3 linked regions of the Homo sapiens genome follow. The protein of the gene in region 1 interacts with the protein of each later gene in a biochemical or structural test. Each region holds a gene or a part of one and is shown in the gene's direction. Other genes may lie near its edges.

Region 1 (7,022 bases):
GAGGAGTGGGAGGGTGGAGAGGACCAAGAGTCCCAGGCCTGGGGCAGTCGGGCAAGTGAGTGTGAGCTCAGGGCTGGGCAGCCCTGGTTGAGGGGTGTCTGACCTGAGGAAGGTGGGATTCAAGGGGCAACATGGCTCCAAGGGGCCTGGTAGGGCTATGCATTGCTTTTTCTCTTTCAGTTCCCCTAAAATATTACACATTACCTATGATGAGGGGTGGGAATAGCCATACATAACCAACCAATCTTTTGTGTGTGAATGAGGCTTTGAGAGGGGCTTCTGAAGGTGCCAGGGGATGGAGCACATTAGAATCACCAGGAGGGGGCTGGGTGCGGTGGCTCATGCCTGTAATCCCAGCACTTTGGAATGCTGAGGTGGGCGGATCACTTGAGGTCAGGAGTTCGAGACCAGCCTGCCCAACATGGTGAAACCCCGTCTCTAATAAAAATACAAAAATTAGCCGGGCATGGTGATGCATGCCTGTAATTGCAGCTACTCGGGAGGCTGAGGCAGGAGAATCGCTTGAACCCAGGAGGCAAAGGTTGCAGTGAGCTGAGATCATACCATTGCACTCCAGCCTGGGCGACAGAGTGAGACTCTGTCTAAAAAAAAAAAAAGAGAATCACCTGGAGGGGCTTTTAAATATCTGGATGCCCAAGTCACACCCTGTACCACTGAAATCAGAGTCTAGGGTGGGAACAGGCATCAATATTTTTCTAGAGTTGAGTGATAGGCGATGGGCATCTCTGCCTGGGCTCAGGCTGAGGCTGAGGCCGAGCCATTTGATGGACCCTCCAAGTCTATGATTGCTAGTGCCCTGGAGTCCCTGTTAAGGCGTCATTTGGCTTTTAGTCCACGGTGGAAATGGAGCTCCCTGTTCATTCCTGGTGGAAATGATCTGACCCTTCTCTCAGATTGAGCTCTGACAGGGGAGGTGGAAAGAGAAAAGACAAAGGGCAGCAGTTGGCCATTTTGTTGTGACCCAGCCAAGTGTGGGGCAGGGAGTATGCAGGGATATGTAGGAGTGGTTGGGATAATTTAGGGAGAATAAGGGTAACAGAATGGTGAAAAATTTCCCTCAAACCACTCTTGTCTTTCCAGCCACAGTCTCTGCAGAGGAAATCATACCTTAAAGATTTAAGTTAGGGTTTCTTGGGGATGTTGGGTGACAGTAGAGATAGGGGTTTGTTTTAGACAGGATTGGGCCCTGGTCAGTTAGGGGATTCTTTAATGCATTCATTCATTCCAAAGACGTACTCCTAGGCCTGTGCAGCAATGACTCCAGCCTGGGCTCCTGAGGAGCCCACAGTTGGGGTGGAGGTCTCTGCCCAGGATGATCAGGATGTGGTGGAGCACAGTACAGGGTCAGTGAAGCCCAGAAGAGAGAGACACTGACCATCTGGGGAATCAGAGAGTACTTCACAGAGGAGGTGACATTTGAGCTGGACCTTAAAGAGGAGCAAGAGTTTGCCAGTAGAGAAGGAAAGGGTCACCCAAGTGGGAGACGAGCAGAGGCAAAGGCCTGGGGGAGGGAGATCAGGACCTTGGGGCCACTGATCCACATGTCTTCTGCTGGGGAGTGTTTAGGAACCTGAGATCAGATCTGCCCTTGAAAAATTCCTAGTCTGATAGGGGAGACATAGTGGGGCCCGGCTAGCTACAGTCAGCCTCTAAGACAGTGACAAGGGAAGGTGCTAGGGTATGGGGAGCTGGAGAGAGACCTGGCTGGGAGCTGGGGGCATCAAGGTGGTGGTTTCATAGAAAACAGAGCTTATGGCCGGGCGTGGTGGCTCACGCCTGTAATCCCAGCATTTTGGGAGGCTGAGGTGGGCAGATCATGAGGTCAGGAGATTGAGACCATCCTGGCTAACACAGTGAAACCCCTTCTCTACTAAATATACAAAAATTAGCCAGTCGTAGTGGCGCGCACATGTAATCCCAGCTATTTGGGAGCCTGAGGCAGGGAATTGCTTCAACCCAGGAGACCTCTGGAGCTTGCAGTGAGCCGAGATCCCACCACTGCACTCCAGCCTGGACAACACAGCAAGACTCCATCTCAAAAAAAAAGAAAAGAAAACAGAGCTTATGCTGGGTTCTGAAGGATGAGTCCGGGGGTCGCCAGGTGGACAGATTGGGGAACAGTGTTCCAGACAGAGGGAACAGCCCATGCCAAGGCCTCAGGAAATGTTTTAAATGGCAAAGTGCAGGCATGGTGGCTCATGGCTGTAATCCCAGAACTTTGGGAGGCCAAGGCATGAGGATCATTTGAGCCCACGAGTCTGAGACCAGCCTGGACAACATAAGGAGACCCGTCTCTACAAAAAAAAAAAATTTTTTTTTTAATTAGCTGGATGTGGTGGTGCACAGCTGTAGTCCCTGGATGTGGTGGTGCACACCTGTAGTCCCAGCTACTCAGGAGGCTGGGATGGGAGGATAGCTTGACCCCAGGAGGTCGAGGCTGCAGTGAGCCGTGATTGTGCCACTGCATTCCAGCCTGGCCGACAGAGCAAGACTCTTGTCTCAAAATATAAATTAAATAAAATAAATAGCAGGGAGACAGTAAGACAAGGGTGAGAAGTAGTAGGAAACAGAGACTGCTAAAGAGAGGGACATTCAGCAGTTACAACCCGTTCTGGGCTTGTGATGCTGGGGACCCAGTGATGAGTCAGACCAGGCCTGTCGCATTGGTCTTGTGGGGAAGGAACCTGGACACAGACAGCCACAACTGGGGGCTCAGGGATGGGACAGCAGGAGGGCAGGGGCTGTGAGAGGCTTAGTTTGCTAGGGCTTCCACATCAAAGTACCACAGACTAGGTGGCTGAAATAAGAGAAATTCATTTTCACAATTACGGAGGCTGTAAGTTAAAGACGAGGATGTCAGCAGGGTTGGTCTCTTCCAAGGCCTCTCTCCTTGGCTTGTGGTCCACTGGTCTTCTCCTGGGTCTTCATATGGTCTTCCCTCTGTTCCCATCTGTGACCTAATTCCCTCTTTTTCTTCTTTTTTTTTTTTTTTGAGATGGAGTCTTGCTCTGTCACTCAGGCTGTAGTGCAGTGGCACGATCTCGGCTGCCTGCAACCTCTGCCTCCTGGGTTCAGGTGATTCTCCTACCTCAGCCTCCTGAGTAGCTGGGATTACAGGCACACACTACCATGCCCGGCTAATTTTTGTATTTTTAGTAGGGGTAGGATTTCACATTGTTGGTTAGGCTGGCCTCAAACTCCTGAACTGGTGATCTGCCCACCTCGGCCTCCCAAAGTGCTGGGATTACAGGCATGAGCCACCGCGCCCGCCCCCTCTTCTTATAAGGATGCCAGTCAGATTGTAGTAAGGTCCACCCTAATGACCTTATTTTACCTTAATTACGTCTTTAAAGACCCTATCTCCAAATACAATTACATTTTGAGGTATCAGGAATTAGGACTTCCGTGTATGAATTTTGGTAGATGCAACTTAGCCCATAGCAGAGGTTAAGGATGAGTGTGGACTTTCTGGGCTGGCAGTGGGGTCCGAGGCTGCCCTGTTCTGTGGACGGGAGAGGGATGCCCAGCTAGGTGGGAGTGTAGAACCTGCACAGCCTGCTGTCAAGCAGACCCCCAAGCAGGGGGAGATGCTCGACATGGGTGAAGAGCACTGTGCATGAGCTGCAAGAGAAGAGCAGTACAGGGTGGTGGGCCAGCCCCTGGAGGCCAGGTTGTTTATTTCTCCAGGAGATAGGGAGGAGCCAGGAAAGGATTGCCCTGAGGCAATGTGGAGCTCCGCTGGAGGGACGGAGGCCAGAGGAGGCTGGGGCTGCAGTTTTAGGGATGCTAGGAGGGGTGGGATTTAGGACCGGGTTAGAGTTAGTGGCTGCCTGAAGTAGGGCTAAGGTCTGGGTGAACTAGAGCTAGGATCAGGCAGGATTCCCGCCTTTACTGCTCCAAAGTCAGGACACACTTGCTGCCCAGCTCCCTTCTTGTCCTTCTTATATCTTGTATCAGTAGCCATTTAATGCCCTGTCCCCAGGGCCAGGAAACAGGACCTGAACTCTGGTAGCGTCCTGGGCACCCACTCCCCACCCCCACCCTCAACAGTCTACATCTTTTTTTTTTTTTTTGAGACAGAGTCTTGCTCTATTATCCAAGCTGGAGTGCAGTGGTACAATCACGGCTCACTGTAGCCTCAATCTCCTGGGCTCGAGCGACCTTCCCATCTCAGCCTACTGAGTAGCTGGGACTGTAGGTGCCCACCACCATCATGTCCGGTTAACTTTTTTATTTTTTGGAGAGACGGGGATTTCACTATGTTGCCCAGGCTGGTCTCAAACTCCTAGCCTCAAGTGATCTACCTGCCTTGGTGCAGTGTGCATCTTAATGGGACTGTGTGCTGGCGTTTTGCTTTTTAGCTTTTAAATGTTTTCTTGCTTGTTAAAACATAACGTATATAGAGTAAAGTGCTCAAATTTTAAGTGTATAGCTTGATGAATTTTTGCTTATGTAAGGACCCTGTAACCACCAAACAAGATCCTTTCTTACCTGGTGCAGGCTTCCTCATGCCCTTTCCCAGTCAGTACCCCCAAGGTGCTCACTCATCTGACTGTGATCATCTGCTATCAGCTTGCCCGTTTTTGAATTTCCTGTAATTGGAATCATAAATTATGTCTGCCTTTGTGTTTGGCATCTTTCATTCAGCCTCATGTCTCCAAGCTTCGGCCATGTGTATGAAGCAGGAGTTTGTTCTTTTTCATTACTGTGGCATATTTCATTGTATGGACATACCACATTTTATTTATCCATTCACCTGTTGACGGCCCCTTAGGCTGTTTCCAGTTTGGGGCCATTATGAAAGACTGCAGAAGAATTCTGCCCATGTCCTTTGATGGGCAGGACACGTGTTTCTTTTGGGCAGATGCCCAGGAGTGGACGTGCTGCATCTTAGGGAGAGGGCATCTTTTCAGCTTTTCTGAGTGGTGCTTGTATCAATTTACACTCCCACCAGCAATGCATGACCTGTTTTTTTAATTAGGAATTTAAAACTCAAGCAGCATTTCACATTGAATAATACTCAATTGCAAGATTTCTAGACTTTTTTTTTTTTTTACAGTTACTGAGTTCTTCCTATTTCTTATCCCTTACTTTAGCTCCATTCTTTTTTTTTTTCTTTTTTTTTTTTTTTGAGACAGGGTCTCACTCTGTCACCCAGGCTGGAGCGCAGTGGTGCAGTCACAGCTCACTGTAGCCTTGACCTCCTGGATTCAAGCGATTCTCCTGCCTCAGCCTCCCCAATAGCTGGGACTACAGGTGCGTGCCATCATGCCCAGCTAATTTTTGTGTCTTTAGTAGAGATGGGGTTTCTCCATGTTGCCTAGGCTGGTCTTGAACTCCTGGGTTCAAGAGATCTGGCTGCCTCAGTCTCCCAAAGTGCTGGGATTGCAGGCGTGAACCACTGTGCCTGGCTTAGCTGTCTTCTTTAAGTATCTTGGTGCAGAGAACACTAGAGTTGGACAGCTCCTTTAGTAGGAGTGGGGTCATGGTTTAGGCAGGGATTTTGGAGTGAGTTGTGGGAAGAGTTTGGATCAGGGACAGGATCTCAGGACAGTTGGGAGTCAAGGTCAGATGAAGGACTTGAGCCATCTGGGCACAACTTGGGATTCAAGGTGAGTAAGTGGACTAAGGATGGGTCAGGCTGAAGCCCAGATTTGTCCTGGGGTCTAGGACCAGGAAGGGTTGGATTCAGTTTCAGGATGAGCTTGGGCGAGGGAACTGTTGGAGATGAGATGGCTGGAAGTCAGGACTAGGGGACATTAGACTAGAGTGGATCCGATTAGAAGTAGGAGCCCAGCAGTCATGAAGACCAGGGGTCCAATCAGGGCACATCTGCTGTCTTGCTGTGCTTTTGGGGAGGTGACATCCCTTCGTGGAGCCTCAGTTTCCTCCTCTGTAAAACGGGGTAATATTAGCACTAACCGCTAATGTGAGCTGTGAGTCATATCTAGCTCTATGCTTGGCACTGGTGAGCACTCGCCTTTCTGTGAAAAGTATCAGAGCGCTTTGAGGACAGGCATTTGTCTCCGTGGGTTTATGTGCTTGCTGCCTGCCACCCTCCCTTGGCCACCTCCTTTCATTTCCTGGGCCTAGGGAGCTATAGAATGGGGTTGTATTACAGGGGTGGACTTGAGACTGCAGCTGGGGCTCAAGCGTGAAGTCCCAGATCAGGTTTAGATTGGAGGACAAGCTCAGGGGTAGAGCCAGATGGAGCTGAGGTTACAGAGGATGAGGTTGGGTCTGCTAGGCCGGTGTGCTAAACATAGGAAGAAAGTCCAGGTGGGAGTAAGATGTGGATGGGGAAAGTGGTGGGGTGGGAAGAGGGCCAGAGGGCGGCTGAATCACACATGCTGAGATCTGACAACTGCCTCCTTTGGGGACGCTGCAGCCCCATCACATCTCTGAGGCCCCACTCAGAGTGGAAAACATGTCTCACCCGAAACCTGGTAGGGCAGGACGGGAGCCTGGGCGGCCCGCCCCAGGAGGAGGCCCAAGGCTGCTCTCCCTCCTTTGGGACGTCACCAGCCTCCTCCTGGGCAGCTGATACCTTCTCACGACCACCTTCCATCTCCTGCCCTGCCCTTTGCTGCACTGTGGGTAACACCCCTGTGTTACTTTCTGGAGAGGTGAAAGGATAAGGCAAGATCCCCCAAGGCCTAAGTGCTGTGTCTCATCTTGCCAGAGGAGGGCAGAGGCCCAGAACGGAGGACATGTCTCTTGGGAAGAGACACTTCCAAGGTGGCTGGGGGTAAGGGGGGAATTTGGGGGAAAGGCTTGGGGAGTGTGGTGGAATGGGGGCCCGAGAGCCCTCCTGGATTCCCCTCCTTCACCCCACTTCCATTCCTCCTCTGTCCCCAGAAATAAGAATGTCTAAGCCCCTGGAGGCCGAGAAGCAAGGTCTGGACTCCCCATCAGAGCACACAGGTGGGTGGGCAGGGAGCAGGGGGGCAGGGGTCACCGTGGGCAGGGGAAGTGGGACAGATGGGAAGAGAGCTGGGAGG
Region 2 (7,022 bases), on another chromosome or scaffold:
TGTCAAGACAGGCATGGTTGTTCCTACCTGTAATCCTAGCTACTTGGGAGGCTGAGGAGGGAGGGTTCGAGACCAACTTGGACAACATAGGGAAACCCTATCCTTTTTTTTTTTTTTTGAGAAGGAGTCTCGCTCTGTCGCCCAGGCTAGAGTGCAGTGGCGCAATCTCGGCTCACTGCAAGCTCCGCCTCCCGGGTTCACGCCATTGTCCTGCCTCAGCCTCCCGAGTAGCTGGGACTACAGGCGCCCGCTACCACGCCCGGCTAATTTTTTTGTATTTTTAGTAGAGACGGGGTTTCAGCGTGTTAGCCAGGAGGGAAACCCTATCTTACAAAAAAAAAAAAAAAAAGATCTTGTCAATTATGTTACCAACAACTGTATGGAGATTCCTATTGCCACACAACTTTGCCTATATTGGCTAATATTATTTTTTAAAATCTTGCATTTTAAAAGATGTTTAAAAGCATCTTATCAGATGCTTTTCTGATAAGAAAAACATCTTGGATTTTTTTTTTTTTTTTTTTTGAGACGAAGTTTTGCTCTGTCACACAAGCTGGAGTGCCGTGGCATGATCTAGGCTCACTGCAACCTCCACCTCCCAGGTTCAAGTGATTCTCCTGCCTCAGACTCCCGAGTAGCTGGGACTACAGTCGCATGCCACCATGCCCGGCTAATTTTTGTATTTTTAGTAGAGACGGGGTTTCACTATGTTGGCCAGGCTGGTCTCGAACTACTGACTTCGTGATCCAGCCGCCTCGATCCTCCCAAAGTGCTGGGATTACAGGTGTGAGCCACTGCGCCCGGCCTGAGATGGAGTTTTGCTCTTGTTGCCCAGGCTGGAGTGCAATGGCGTGATAGCTCACCACAACCTCTGCCTCCCGGGTTCAAGCAGTTCTCCTGTCTCAGCCTTCCGAGTAGCTGGGATTACAGACATGCGCCACTACCTCTGGCTAATTTTGTAGTTTTAGTAGAGATGGGGTTTCTCCATGTTGGTCAGGCTGGTCTTGAACTCCCGACCTCAGGTGATCCACCCGCTTTGGCATCCCAAAGTGCTGAGATTACAGGCGTGAGCCACCGTGTCCAGCCTCATTTTGGCTCTTAATGAAAAATTTTTTGATAGTTTGTTGAGTTTTTATGGCATATATTTCATGGGATTGAATATAGGCATTTTTATAATATGCTTGTTAGTCTGAGAAGAGCAGGTATTATTTTGCTGAATGATTCTGGCTCGGTCTTAGGATGTTGTAATCAAGTTGTTGGCTAGGACTGCAGTCTAGATTTGACTGGGCCTGGAGTATCTGTTTCCAAGGTCACTCATGTGGCTCTTGTCAGGAGGCTTCAGTTCCTCCCCATGGACTCTTCCATAGGGCTACTTATGACGTGGCTTCTCCCAGAACTAGTGATATGAGCGGAGGTAAGGAAGATTGGAGAGATGGATGGGAGAAGAGAGAAAGGGAGGGAGGAAGGGAACTGGAAGCTGTAGAGCCTTTTAAAACCTAATGATAGAAGTGATATACCATCACCTCTGGTGTTTTGTAGTGTTATAATGTGGGAGAGTACACACAAGAGTGTGAATACCAAGAGTGTGAATATCATTGGGCTATCTTGAAGGCTGGCTTCCGCAGGATTTTATTAACTTATTTTTTTTTTTTTCATGTCCTCAAGTAGCAAAGACTTTTTGGAGGCAAGTGATAAAGTGAGTAGGAGTAGTGCTTCATAAAAGAGGAACTATAGGGTTATGGAAAAATTAACTAGGAGTTTTACTTATGGGAGAAAATACAGGAGCAGAGAGGAGAGAAAAGAGGTGAAACATTATTAAATACCTTTGTCTCTTAGCTGCTAGCAATTGAAGAAGCATATTTCCCTACTTATCAATTTAATCTAGCAAATGCACAAATGAATTGATTGTATGCATATAGAAGAAGATTGGATTTCATGTTCTTTTTTTAATTTTTTCTGTTCAAGGATGAACATTGTCTCAATTACAGAAAATGGTAATTTTTTTTCTTTATCAGGCCACCTATTTCAAGAAATGGGCCTTCCATTCTGAAGGCATATAGAATTAGATGGAGGCAGTGGTATCTAATTCTCATTTAACTACAGCCTTTAATAATTTAATTTCTGTCTGGGTGCAGTGGCTTACGCCTGTAATCCCAGCACTTTGGGAGGCTGAGGCGGGTGGATCACCTGAGGTCAGGAGTTCGAGACCATCCTGGCCAACATAGTGAAACCCCGTCTCTACTAAAAATACAATAATTAGCTGGGTGTGGTGGCATGGGCATGTAATCCCAGGTACTTGGGGAGGCTAAGGCAGGAGAATCACTTGAACCTGGGAGGCAGAGGTTGCAGTGAGCCGAGATCACACCACTGCACTCCAGCCTAGGCTACAGAGCAAGACTCCATCTTAAAAAAAAATTAATTTCTATCCCAACCATTCTTGGCAAAACCTGTCTCTGGAAATTTTATGTGCTAAATCTACTTTTTTCATCACGCACGAGACGCAAAGTACAAGATAAGCAAAATCAAGTACCTACCATCTTGATATATAAAGGCAATGTTTTGTGATAGTTACTTAACATCTTTCTCTTTCTTTTTTTCCCTTTTTTTTCTGTTCTCCTATTTCTCTCTCATTTACTGATGTTACTGGATAGTTTATCCTGAAGAGTCCGAATTTTGCTTATTGCATCTCTGTGATATTGTTAAATATGTTCTTCTGTTCTCAGTATTTCCTCTAAATTGTTAGTTATGTTTAAAAGTTTTATCAGATTAAGTTTGAATTTATTTGTTGATAAGAATAATAAGTGGTGTTAACTCATTTAATATACTGATCTTATTCAGTACCTTTGTGCAAATTGGGAAACAGAGCCCCCTCTGGGTAGAAAATTAGGAAAAGGCACTTATTTTAGGTGGAAGATTTAGAACAGGAACATTCTAGATATATTATTTTATAATTTTCTGTTGTGATAAGAGGATATACTCTATAAAATTTCAGTCTTTTGAAGTTTTCTGAAAGCTTGCTTATGGTCCAGCATATGGCCTGTCTTTGTGAACAATCAGTGTACATTTGAAAAGAATATACATTCTGTGGTTGTTGGGTGTAGTGTAGTATAAGTTATAAACGTGGTACATATTACCATACCCATCTTGGTTGATAGCATTACCAGATCTTCTGTATCTTTATTAATTTATTTTATCTACTCATCTTATGAATTACTCCACTATGATTATAGATTTGTCAGTTTTTCTTGTAAGTTTTGTCATACTTTATGCATTTTGGAACTCTCTTGTTGGGTACATATTTGGGATTGTTATGCCTTCCTAATACATTTCTCCTTTTATCATTATGAAATGGCCCTCTTTGTCTCTTGTAATATGCTTTTTCCTGAAGATTCTGTCTGATAATAATTTGGCACTGTCAGATTTCTTGTGCTTACTATTTGATAGTGTGCATTTTTCCGTTCATTTACTTTAAAAAAATTTTTTAACCCATGTAATATCAGTGGCACAATCATAAACTCCTGGGCTCAAATGATCCTCCTGCCTCATCCTCTTGAGTAGCTAGGACTACAGGTGCATGGCACCACACCTGGCTTATTTATTTATTTATGTATTTATTATTTTTATTTTTTGAGATGGAATCTCGCTCTGTTGCCCAGGCTGGAGTGCAGTGGCGCGATCTCAGCTCACGGCAAGCTCCGCCTCCCAGGTTCACACCATTCTCCTGCCTCAGCCTTCCGAGTAGCTGGGATTACAGGCACGGGCCACCACGTCTGGCTAATTTTTTGTATTTTTAATAGAGACAGGGTTTCACTGTGTTAGCCAGGATGGTCTCGATCTCCTGACCTCGTGATCCTCCTGCCTCGGCCTCCCAAAGTGCTGGGATTACAGGCGTGAGCCACTGCGCCTGGGGTTTTTTTTTTTTTTTTTTTTTTAATTTTTAGTAGAGATGGGGTCTTGCTATGTTTCCCAAGCTGGTCTCAAACGCCTGAGCGCAAGTGATCCTCCTGCCTGGGCCTCCCAAAATGTAGGTATTACAAGAGTGAGCTGCTGTACCTGGCCCCCATCCATTTACTTTCAACCAATTTGTGTCTGTCTCTGGGAGACTCTACTTCACTGGGTCTTGCCATTTTATCTGGATTGACAATCTCTGCCTTTTAATTGGTGTACTAGTCCATTATATCTAATTATTGATATCATTGGGTTTAAGTCTACATGTTTCCTTGTATTCCTTTGGTTTTTTTGTTGTTCTTTTGCTCCTTTCCTGCCTTATTTTGAAATAATTGGATTTTTTAAAGTATTGGCCTATTAGCCGGTAGCTTTTTATTTTTTATTTATTTTTATTTTTTTTTAAATAAGAGACAGGATCTCACTCTATCACCCAGGCTGGAGTGTGGTGGCTTTATCACAGGTCACTGCAACCTTGAACTCAGGGGTTCAAGGGATCCTTCCACTTCAGCCACCCCAGAATTTGGGACTACAGGTGTGCACTGCCACAGCCAGCTAATTTTTAATTTTTTTTTGTAGAGCTAGTCTCTGACTGTGTTGCCCAGGCTGGTCTCAAACTCCTGGCCTCAAGTGATCTACCCACCTCAGCCTCCCAAAGTTCTGGGATTACAGTCACCTTTTATGGCCAACAATTAACTCCTCATTGTTATTATTATTATTAGTGGTTTCTTTCAGCATATCTTTTATTTGTATTTGTGATTTGTTGTTATTTTTGCTTTAAACAGTCAGTTGTCTTTAAGGAAAGGTATGTTTTTAAAAAACTACTTCACTGAATATAATTCACGTACCATAAAATTCACACATTTAAAGTGTACGTTTCAATGGCTTTTAGTATATTCTCAGAGATGTACATATTACCCCACAAAGATACCTCTCACCACTTAGCCGTCACACTCCTCAACTCCCCCCTCCCATAGCACTAGGCAACCAGTTATCTACTTTCTGACTATGTAGATTTTCCTATTCTGGACCTTTCATATAAATGGAATCATACAGTATGTGGTTCTCTGGACTGGCTTCTTTTACATAGTGTAATATTTTCTAGGTTCATCCATGTTGTAGCATGTATGAGTACAACATTTCTTTTTATTGCTGAATATTATTCCATTGTATGGCTATACTACATTTTATCCATTCATCAGTTGAAGAACATTTGAGTCATTTCTACTTTTTGGCTGTTATGAATAATGCTGCTGTGAACATTCATGTACAAGTTTTCGTATGGACAAATGTTTTTGTTTCTCTCATGTATATATTTAGGAGTAGAATTATTGGATCATATGGTAACTCTTTGTTTAGTTTGTTTTCCAATGTGGCTGTACCATCTTATAGCAGTGAATGAGGGCTCTAGTCTCTCTATGTAGTTGCCAATGCTTGTTATAGTTGTCTTTTGATTATAGCCATTCTAGTGGGTATGAAGTGGTGAAATATAGTCTCTTATTTTCACCTATTTACTATCTTTGATATTGCCCTTCTTCCTTTGGATCTGATTTTATAGTCATATTGATTTCCATCTGCCTAAAGAACATTCTTTAGCATTTCTTTTTTTTTTTGAGACGGAGTCTTGCTCTGTCGCCCAGGCTGGAGTACAATGGCACAATCTCGGCTCACTGCAGCCTCCGCCTCCCAGGTTCAAGCGATTCTCCTGCCTCAGCCTCTTGAGTAACTGGGATTACAGGTGTGTGCCACCATGCCCGGCTAATTTTTGTATTTTCAGTAGAGATGGAGTTTCACCATGTTGGCCAGGCTGGCCTTGAACTCCTGACCTCAGGTGATTCGCCTGCCTCAGCCTCTCAAAGTGCTGAGATTACAGGCGTGAGCCACTGCGCCCAGCTCCTTAGCATTTCTTATAGTGTAGGTGTGTTGGTGAAGAATATACTCTGATTTTGTTTATAAGAAAGTGTTTTTATTTCACCCTAGTGTTTGAAGGATATTTTTGCTGAATATAGAATTATGGGTTGGCATTTCTTTGACCATACAAAAGATATCATTTCATTGTTCTCTAGTGTTTCTGTTGAGAAGTTAATTTTACTCATATCTCTTTCTCCCTGTTCTTTAGATTATATATTTTCTATTGATCTATCTTCAGGTTCACTGTTGCCTGTCTGCCATTTCTAATCTCATCCAATAGATTTTTCATTTCTTATTGTATTGTTTTGGTCGTAGAGTTTTCATTTTTATCTTTTTTATAGTTTTCATTTCTCTGATATTTCCCATCTATATACTCATCAAGAATATATTTTTCTTTAGTTCTTTGAATGCATTTTCCTTTAATTTTTTGAACATATTTTCCATTAATTCCTTTAAAATATTTATGATAGTCAATCTTAAGGTTTCTGTCTGTAAGAGTTAACTCCTTGGCTATCTCAGGGTTGGTTTCTTTTTTGTTTGTGTTTTTGAGAGAGCCTCACTCTGTTGCCCATGCTGGAGTGCAGTGGCATGATCTTGGCTCACTGCAACCTCCACCTCTTAGGTTCAAGTGATTCTCCTGCATCAGCCTCCCAAGTAGCTGGGATTACAGGTGCCTGCTACCATGCCTGGCTAATTTTTGTATTTTTAGTAGAGATGGGGTTTTGCCCTGTTGGCCAGGCTGGTCCCAAGCTCTTGACCTCAAGTGATCTGCGTGCCTCGGCCTCCCAAAGTGCGGGGATTACAGGTGTGAGCCATCACGCCCAGCCATCTCAGGGTTGGTTTCTATTGACTGCTTTTATTTGACTGTAGGTTACAGTTTTCTGCTTATTTATTTTTGCATGTTTACTACTTTTTAATTGTAGGTGGTATATTATAGAGATTCTGGATTTTGTATTTTTGTGAAAAGTGTTGATTTTAAAAATTCTTGCAGGTAGTTCAGTTACTGGCAGATAACTTTGAACTTGTGTAGGCTTGGTTTTACTCTTTGCTAGAATGATATGTGGAGAACCCATTGTTTCCTTACTTTAGTGTAACTCAACCTCACATTTTTAATCCCTTCAAAAACTTGTTGGGGCTTGATTTTAGTCTTTGTTAGGGTGCACCTA
Region 3 (7,963 bases), on another chromosome or scaffold:
TCAAGCTTTGTCTGGTATGTCTTTTAAAACGTGATTAACGCTGAGCTTGATGCTAGCAGCCCGCAAGGGGTACTATAGGCTTACAGCCTAATTCCTTTCCCCAAGCGGAGCGGTACCTTCTCATCGCCTTTTTGGGGAACTACACTAAAGATCTAGTGTGCACTGAACAGGTCTGTGGGAACCAGGAAGGCAGAGGAAGGAAGGGAGGCTCCCGGGAGCCCAGGCCCCGGCAAGGCCCTTACAGTTCCCAGACCCGCCAAACCGAAAGAGAGACCCTGGAGAGGGCTGAGCCCCTGTGGGCCTGGCTGGAGGCCTCGGGTAGGATGCTGAGGCAAGAGCCACAGCGGTCCGAGTCCAAGAACCACGTCCAGACTCAGCTTAAGGTTCCGAGGTGAAAGGCCTGGCCTAGAAGGGAGGGAGAGAGATCTGAAGAAGAGGGGGTGGGTGAAAGAAACGTGGACACTACAACTGCGTTTTCTGCTCCTGCAGCTGAGCGTGCCTGGACAAGTATGTAGGATTTCCCAATTGGGGGATCTAAGTACTCTCGAAAACTATGATCAGTTTTCTATTAGGTACCCTACCCCACAACAACAGATATCATTATTTCCTGGTTGAGTGTGGGTCGCATTAGGCCCAGGACAAGTGTGCCAATTGGGACCAGTATCAAAAGAGAGCCTTGAAGAAAGAAAGAAAGGGCTTCCCAGGAACTAAGCTGACCTCTCAGTGCCTCTAGGGAAGACATTTTTGCTGGAGGCAGGGCTATGAGCACAAGTGGGGCGCCCTGTGGGTGTGCAACCGCGGTCGGGGAGCACAGGCTTCCGAAGAGAAACTGAGCTCTAAGTGCCACTCAGGCCGGACGAGTTCCAGAGGGGGACAGCGCCCTCCTCGAAAAGCCTTGGTTTCTCCCCGCCCCCTCTTGTGACAGAAAGTTGGCAAGGATGCCCCGTAGGAGTGCGAGCCGCTCCCCTCCTCCGAAAAGCCGCGGGCTTCCGCTGCTCCGGGCATCACCACCAACAGCTTCCCACTCCCACCCCTGGGACTAGGACAGGGGACTTCACCCTCCTCCTTCCTTCCGGAGGAGCCCGCGGCTTCGCCTGAGGCCTCGCGGGCCCAACTTCTCCCCACCGCTAGGGTCACGCCGGGTCCCAGGGGCCTCTTTCAAGTTTGAAAGCTCTGTGGGGGCACGGAGAGCCCACAGTAAGGATGGGTGGGCGCCTCTGCTCCCGGGCAGGCTCAGCTGTCATCCCGTCTCGCCTTGGCCCTCACCTACAGGGCCTGACCCCGGGCCAGCCCAGCTAGGCAAGGCCTCCTCGCTTCCGAGACCCCCCAGCCCCCGGGTGCAGTCCCCAGCATCGGCTGCCCCCGCCCCCCGCGCGCCCTCTGACGCAAACGCACGCCCCTGCCCCGCACGGAGGAAAGCGCTCTTGTTGGTTTTAATTGAGCCTCTTCCTTTCAACACACCCCCTCTGTCCCCACCCCTGGGAGGCGACCCCCTCCCCGCCCCCAGCCGGCTGGCAGCGGCGCAGGGAGTCTGGCTCGGCTGCTAGGCTGCGAATCCCGGTGCTCTCTCGCCGCCGCCGCAGGTTGTCTGCTCGGGAGAGCGGCTCGATGTCCCTTTTAATCCGCTGACACTATCGCCCACATCAGACAGGCAGCCATCGATCGCGTTACATTAGGGGATGGCGTTACAAACGGCGTCCGCAGGTGGGCGGCTGCAGCCAAGCTCGCCAGGTTCAGGCCGTAACCAGGCAAGGCGCGGGCACAAGGGCCAGCCGGGCCGGACTCTGCAGCCGGCTCCACCGCGGGTCGCGCTCGGCACCAGCAGGAACAGCCGGGCCGGTGTTAAACGTGCGGGTCCCCGTCCTCCGCCCGGGCATCCGTTTCCCGCCTAGGAGAGAGAGGGAATAGCGGGTGGGGGTGGGAGCAGCCTGTTTTGAATGTGGATTGCTGCTCGCCTGGCACGATCCTCCCCTCCAAGGAGGCGCGGCGGCCGCGATCCTCGCCTTAGCGCTACGGCGAGACAGAGGCCGAGCGAGGGCAACTCCCGAGCAGGCCCCGAAGAAAGTTCTCCTCGTCCCGCCCTGGCTGCCTAGACTCTGCTCTCGGCCTGCGGAGGCCGTGCGAGCCAAGACTGCCTCCCGGCCCTGCCCGTTACCAACCCCAAGTTCAAGAGAAACGACAACCATTATGTTACTTGCCTGGTGAGGCAGGATTTGGCCGAGTCTCGTTTCTGGTGCCCACGACGCACGGTCCAGGGTCCGAGGGCGGCTGGGCCGGCGGACTGGGCATCCAGTGTGCCTGCGGTGCCCTGGCGCTCGCTGTCGCTGGTCTCCCACTCCCTTCGTCTCTCTCCGCGTTCTCCTTCCCTCGCCCTATCTCCCTCTCTCCGCCTGCTGCCTCTGCCCTCGACTCCCTGCCTCTGACTGTATGGGGAGTACGATTTAGAATCTGTACATAGAAAGGTTTTCTTTTCTTTCTTTTCTTTTGGTCTATTTTAATCGTGTTCGTTTCACCTTTTAACTGACCAGAAGACGGGAGCGCGTTTGCGCGTTTATTTGGGCATAGGGACGAGGGCAAGGAGCCCCTGCTACCCCCAGTCGCCTCCTCGCCATCAGCTGCGTACAATGGGCCACCGCTCGCGGAGTGCATTGACAGTTCTCCATTATTCGAGCTGGAGGGGCTGTGGGGCAGGCACGGGAAAACCTTTTATTCTGCTCTTTAAAATCATCGCTCGTCACTAAGCGGTCGCCGACTCCCGACTTGTAGGCTGGAGAGACCAGGAAGCGCAAAACGTCCCCCAAACACGCAGTGCTTCCCAAACCCCTCCCTGGTGAGACTTAAAGTGAGAACGAGTATTAAAAAACAAACCCTACCTCTGTCAATACAGCGTGGCCATTTACTTCCACCTTTACCTGAGGGCGTGTTGGCGCTAGGAATGCTCGAGCTGAGACAAACTTTTACGCCCTCGCGAGTCGAGGGGCGGGCGGGCGAGCGCGGCTCCCACCCCCGGCGGCGGCAGCGGCGGCTTTGTCACTCCGCGCGGCTCCGCGCCCGCCTGAGCCTGCCTAGGGGAGCGATCTCAAAACGAGGGGGGTGCGAGTATGCGATTGGAGAATATGTAACTAATAGAAGTATCATTTTCCCCCAGTACGATCTTTCAAGGAAAAAAAAATCCATTGAAAGAATTTTCAAAGTGCTGTCTTCGTTTGGAGAAAAGGCACAGGCTGCCTGCGGGGAGGGGAGGAGGGACTCGGCTGTGTGCCGCCCGGGAGCGGCTCCCGTCCGCTAGGTGGCAGCCGGAGCCAGCGATTCCTGCAAGCCCCGCCGCGGGACCCGCTCCTCCCGCCTGCCCCTCCTCCCGCGACCAATCACCTTCAGGATTCAGGAATCGGGGTCTCGGTCTCTCTCTCTCTCTCTCTCTCTCTCTCTCTCTCTCTCTCTCTCTCTCTCTCTCTCTCTCTCTCTCCCCCTCTCCCTCTCCCTCTCCCTCTCCTCTCTCCCTCTCCCTCTCCCTCTCCCTCTCCCTCTCCCTCTCCCTCTCCCTCTCGTCTCTCTCTCTCTCTCTCTCCTCTCTCTCTCTCTCTCCTCTCTCTCTCTCTCCTCTCTCCTCTCTCTCTCGGTCTCTCTCTCTCTCTCTGGGTCTCTCTCTCTCTCTCTCTCTCTGGGTCTCTCTCTCTCTCCTCTCTCTCTGGGTCTCTCTCTCTCTCCTCTCTCTCTCTCTCCCCTCTCCTCTCTTCTCTCTCTCTCTCTCTCAATATCTCGCGCGCTCTCCTCTCTCCTCTCTTTCCTTTCCTCTCCTCTCTCTCTGTCTCTCTCTCTCCTCCTCCCCCTTTTCTCTCTCCCTCTCCGCCTCCCCCCCTCTCCATCTTCTCGTTTGTTTGCTCTTTTCCCGGGACTGACTTGGCCACACTAATCTCCCCCCACCCTGCAACAATATGGGGACTTACTACTGTTTTATTAATAATGATTGAAGCATTGTTGGAGTTTGGAACAGCCAGGTGATAAAAAAAAAAAAAAAGAAGAAGGAAAAATTGGATTGATTGGAAAGTTTATTTTTAAAATCATCTTTGGGATAAATAGGAACCCTTGATTCCGATCGAATTTGTGGCAATAGCTGCAAATTCCAGGAGTGTGCTTTGTCATCATTAAACCTTTTAAACCAAGGTATACTTTGGATTAAAAAATAGGGAGATCCTACCCTGTTTCTACTTGTTTCTAAAAAGGATATAAAATGAGCAGAATCCAGACTTGGATTGTGCTTATATGTGAGAGAAGAAAACAATCCAAATCCAGTATATTTCACAAATCATTAAAATGGTGGGGGTTTCATTCCCATTAAAAATTTTTCCAAACATTTTCAATGACACTCTCTTCACGCTCATAAAATCTAATTTTAAAAACTTTTCAGAAGAAATCAAAATAATTTCCCTCTAATTCTCCTTTTGCCCATCGCTAGGCGTTCTCCCCCTCGTCATCCCTTCCCCCTCTGGGGTGTGAGCGTAAGTGTGTGTGTGTGTATGTGTGTGTGTGTGTGACCATAGACGACCCATACTAATCAGGTCTCAGAGTAAATAGCAGCGCAGGGCGATCTCAATGTAAATTGCGCTTGTCAGAAACACACCCCCCTCCCTCACTTTCTCTCCTCCTCCCCACACCATCCCAGTCTGTAGGTAGCTAAGCGGGGGGGGGAGAAAGAAAGCAAAAGAGGAGGGGGGAGGGGCTCTCCAACCAATGGCGTGCAGGAGGCTTGGCTAACCTTAGCCTCCCATTTTCTCTCCCCCCGATTCAGGGCTCTGACCAGTCAGTCGCCTTTGATTATCAGTTGCCAGCAGCCCTTCTCTTGGCTCCTTGACACGAGCTCCATATAAGGCAGCGATCTCCATAGAAACGTGTCAGTTTCAATAGTAGTGTCAAAGTTCACTATATACAGACATTCGCGCAGATCCCCCTTTCGGAAACATTGCTCTGCGAGTCCTCCCGTTTAAACGCATTCAATTTTTGGGTCTCTCTCTCTCTCTCTCTCTCTCTTCTTCTCTTCTCTCTCTCTCTCTCTCTCCTCTCTCTCTCTCCTCTTTCTCCCCCCTCTCTCCCTCCTCTCCTCTCTCTCTCCTCTCTTCTCTGAACCTCTCTTCTCTTTCTCTTTTCTTACATATTCTACTAGTTGTTTTCCCCTTCTTCTTCTCCTTTCTCTCCTTTTTCTCCCTCCTCCTTGTCTCTTTTACTCCATTCCTGCAGAAGAGAGAGGGCTAAACTTAAAGAAAAAAAAAAGGAGGAGGAGGAGGAGGAGGCACCCCCTTCGTATTCTTCTTATCGTTATTTTATACATATATGATTTTTTTTGGAGGGAGGGTGTTGGTTGCCGGCTGAAGAGCACTTATTTAAAATACTAAAAAAAGAACATTTTTGGGCGATCTCCAGGGTTTTTTTAACTAGCTCTGTGTGTTATAGCAGAAGAAGCAGAAGAAGGAGCAAGAAAGAGGAAAAGAAGAGGATTATTTATTCGACCTACTTTGGATGTCTCTCTCGCTTTTCCTTTTTCCTTTTTTTGGCAATTATTTTCTTCTGATTTTTATTTTTTCTATTTCGCTGTGATTTCGTCGCCGGCGTGAATTATCCCGTATTTTTCTCCCCCTTCCGTCACCTCCCGAAAGAAGAAGGCAGCGAGAGCCCGGCGCCACCGGCACAACAAAAAGAGCAAAGTGTGTGATCTTCCTCGCCGGCTGCCTCCCGCTCTCCAGCGCTGCCTTCCTGAATGGCTGGCTGCGTCCGGCCCTGGACCTGGCCCCCCGACACCCGCGCGCCCTGATCGCCGGCGGCAGCCTCGCCCAGCGCCCTGCTCGGCTCACCGCGCTCCCCGCACTCCCGAGCCCGGCGAGGGCTCCCGCCGGGACAGCGGCGGCGCCGCGGGCGGCCCCGGCCTCCGCTCGCGCTCCGGCTGCGGCCCCGACTCCTGCTCGGACTCCGGCCCGGGTCCCGGCTCCTCCAGCGGCGCTCGCCGCAGCAGCTCCGGCGGCAGCTCCAGCGGCGCCTGCAGCCGCGACCTCCTCCTCCTCCGCCGCCGCCGCCGCCTCCGCCCTCGCCGGCTTCCTCTATGTCGGCTCAGCCCGCGCGCTGCGCGTAGCCCGAGCGGCCGGCGGGCGGGCGCCCGGCGCGGGTGAGCGACTGTGTGTGCGAGTGTGTGTGTGCGCGGGGGTGCGGGCGAGGCGGAGGGCGAGTGTGTGCGCGCGCCGTGGCCCATGCCCGCCGCCCCCGGCGCTGCGCCCCGCGCCGCTCCCGGCTGCCGCCTGTGCCATTTCTGATTTTGCAACTTGGGGAAGAAGAAAAAAGCGAGAGAAGGGAGCTTGCTCGCCGGGGGGTGGGGAGGGGGGAAGGAGAGCGCGGCCCCCCCAGGAACGGAGCGCGGGGGGAGCGGGCGAGGGGAGCAGGGGTGTTGGGGGGGGAGCCTGAGAGCCTGGGGGGGCTGCAAAAAGAGAGAAAGAAAACAGCAGGAACCACAACAAAACGCCAGCAGGGCGGGCGGGCGCGCAGCAGCAGCGGGGCGGCCGAGGCAGTAGCGGCGGCAGCGGCGGCGGCGGCGGAGGCAGCGGCCGGTGTCCGGCTCGGGCTCGGCTCCTGCGACCCCGGGGCGCCCGGCGGGCCCCCCGCCCCCTCCCCCTCCCCCCTTCCCCTTCCCCTTCCCCTCCCAGCGCGCCCGCGCGCCCCGCGGCCCTCGGCGAGCAGCTCGGCTCCCCCCAGCGCTCCCCGGGCCCAAAGATATGGCAATGGTAGTTAGCAGCTGGCGAGATCCGCAGGACGACGTGGCCGGGGGCAACCCCGGCGGCCCCAACCCCGCAGCGCAGGCGGCCCGCGGCGGCGGCGGCGGCGCCGGCGAGCAGCAGCAGCAGGCGGGCTCGGGCGCGCCGCACACGCCGCAGACCCCGGGCCAGCCCGGAGCGCCCGCCACCCCCGGCACGGCGGGGGACAAGGGCCAGGGCCCGCCCGGTTCGGGCCAGAGCCAGCAGCACATCGAGTGCGTGGTGTGCGGGGACAAGTCGAGCGGCAAGCACTACGGCCAATTCACCTGCGAGGGCTGCAAAAGTTTCTTCAAGAGGAGCGTCCGCAGGAACTTAACTTACACATGCCGTGCCAACAGGAACTGTCCCATCGACCAGCACCACCGCAACCAGTGCCAATACTGCCGCCTCAAGAAGTGCCTCAAAGTGGGCATGAGGCGGGAAGGTGAATATTTCTTCTCTGCTTCTCTCCCCGCGCTTCGCCCGCCTCCCTGGCTCTTTCTTTCTTTCTCGCCCGGGTGGTTGCTGTGTGGGGCTGGGGCTCCTGTGGTCCCGGCCCGTCCCAGCTTTCCTTCTCCCGGCTGCCTTCCTCCCCCGGCGTCTCCCCCCGCCCTCCCCAGCTCGCTGCCGCTGCCTCCCCCTCCCGGCCTGCGCTCATCTCCCCGGCTCCCCCACCCCGCCCGCTGCCTGCTCAGGATTGTGTCCCTGAGATCGTGAGCTGTGGCTTAAAATCCCCTTCTTCCCTCTGTCTTGGATGTGCTCGGTGTGTGTCTCTTTCCCGCGTGTGCGTGAGGCTGCTTGGGGCTGTGCTGGCATGAACTTGGGGAGGGGTGCTTATTTCCCCCAGAAAACTCTGTTTCTGTGGTTTTTTTTCATTCCACTTTTCCCTCCACCTCTTCATACCCTTTATTTAAAATGGGGGAGGGCTGGGGGCTGGAGTACCCTGAACCATAGATTCATTGCTGCCATCATCCTTTTGGAAGCTTAGCTCGGAAAAAGAGGAGTGAGATTTATTGCACTTGTAGGTCTAATTAGGGGGGAAGGGGGGCTTCTGGCCCGTTCACTGGTTCCCTCTCTTCTTCACGGAGCTGGGGCCGCCTCCTCCAGAGCTGTGGCCTTGTTTTCACCCCTCTACTTTGAAAGGAAAGTTTGTGACTGAACCGTGCTTTCATAGTTGTGTCATTTTTTTT

What was found. Proteins that work in one complex are often made in the same cells at the same time.
Region 2: the proteins of POU2F2 (region 1) and MNAT1 form a complex in vitro, tested with the Homo sapiens proteins (one study listed by BioGRID).
Region 3: the proteins of POU2F2 (region 1) and NR2F1 form a complex in vitro, tested with the Homo sapiens proteins (one study listed by BioGRID).

The regions. Positions count from the first base shown.
Region 1 is NC_000019.10:42,122,434-42,129,455, reverse strand, and holds part of POU2F2 (POU domain, class 2, transcription factor 2), read left to right. Parts: intron 1-5,161; exon of another isoform or gene 5,162-5,277; intron 5,278-6,529; exon of another isoform or gene 6,530-6,731; coding exon of another isoform or gene 6,732-6,759; exon of another isoform or gene 6,760-6,769; intron 6,770-6,879; coding exon 6,880-6,945; intron 6,946-7,022. UniProt on the Homo sapiens protein: Transcription factor that specifically binds to the octamer motif (5'-ATTTGCAT-3'). Regulates IL6 expression in B cells with POU2AF1. Regulates transcription in a number of tissues in addition to activating immunoglobulin gene expression.
Region 2 is NC_000014.9:60,737,749-60,744,770, forward strand, and holds part of MNAT1 (CDK-activating kinase assembly factor MAT1), read left to right. Parts: intron 1-7,022.
Region 3 is NC_000005.10:93,578,269-93,586,231, forward strand, and holds the start of NR2F1 (COUP transcription factor 1), read left to right. Parts: upstream 1-4,953; 5' UTR 4,954-6,755; coding exon 6,756-7,218; exon of another isoform or gene 7,219-7,321; intron 7,322-7,963. UniProt on the Homo sapiens protein: Coup (chicken ovalbumin upstream promoter) transcription factor binds to the ovalbumin promoter and, in conjunction with another protein (S300-II) stimulates initiation of transcription. Binds to both direct repeats and palindromes of the 5'-AGGTCA-3' motif.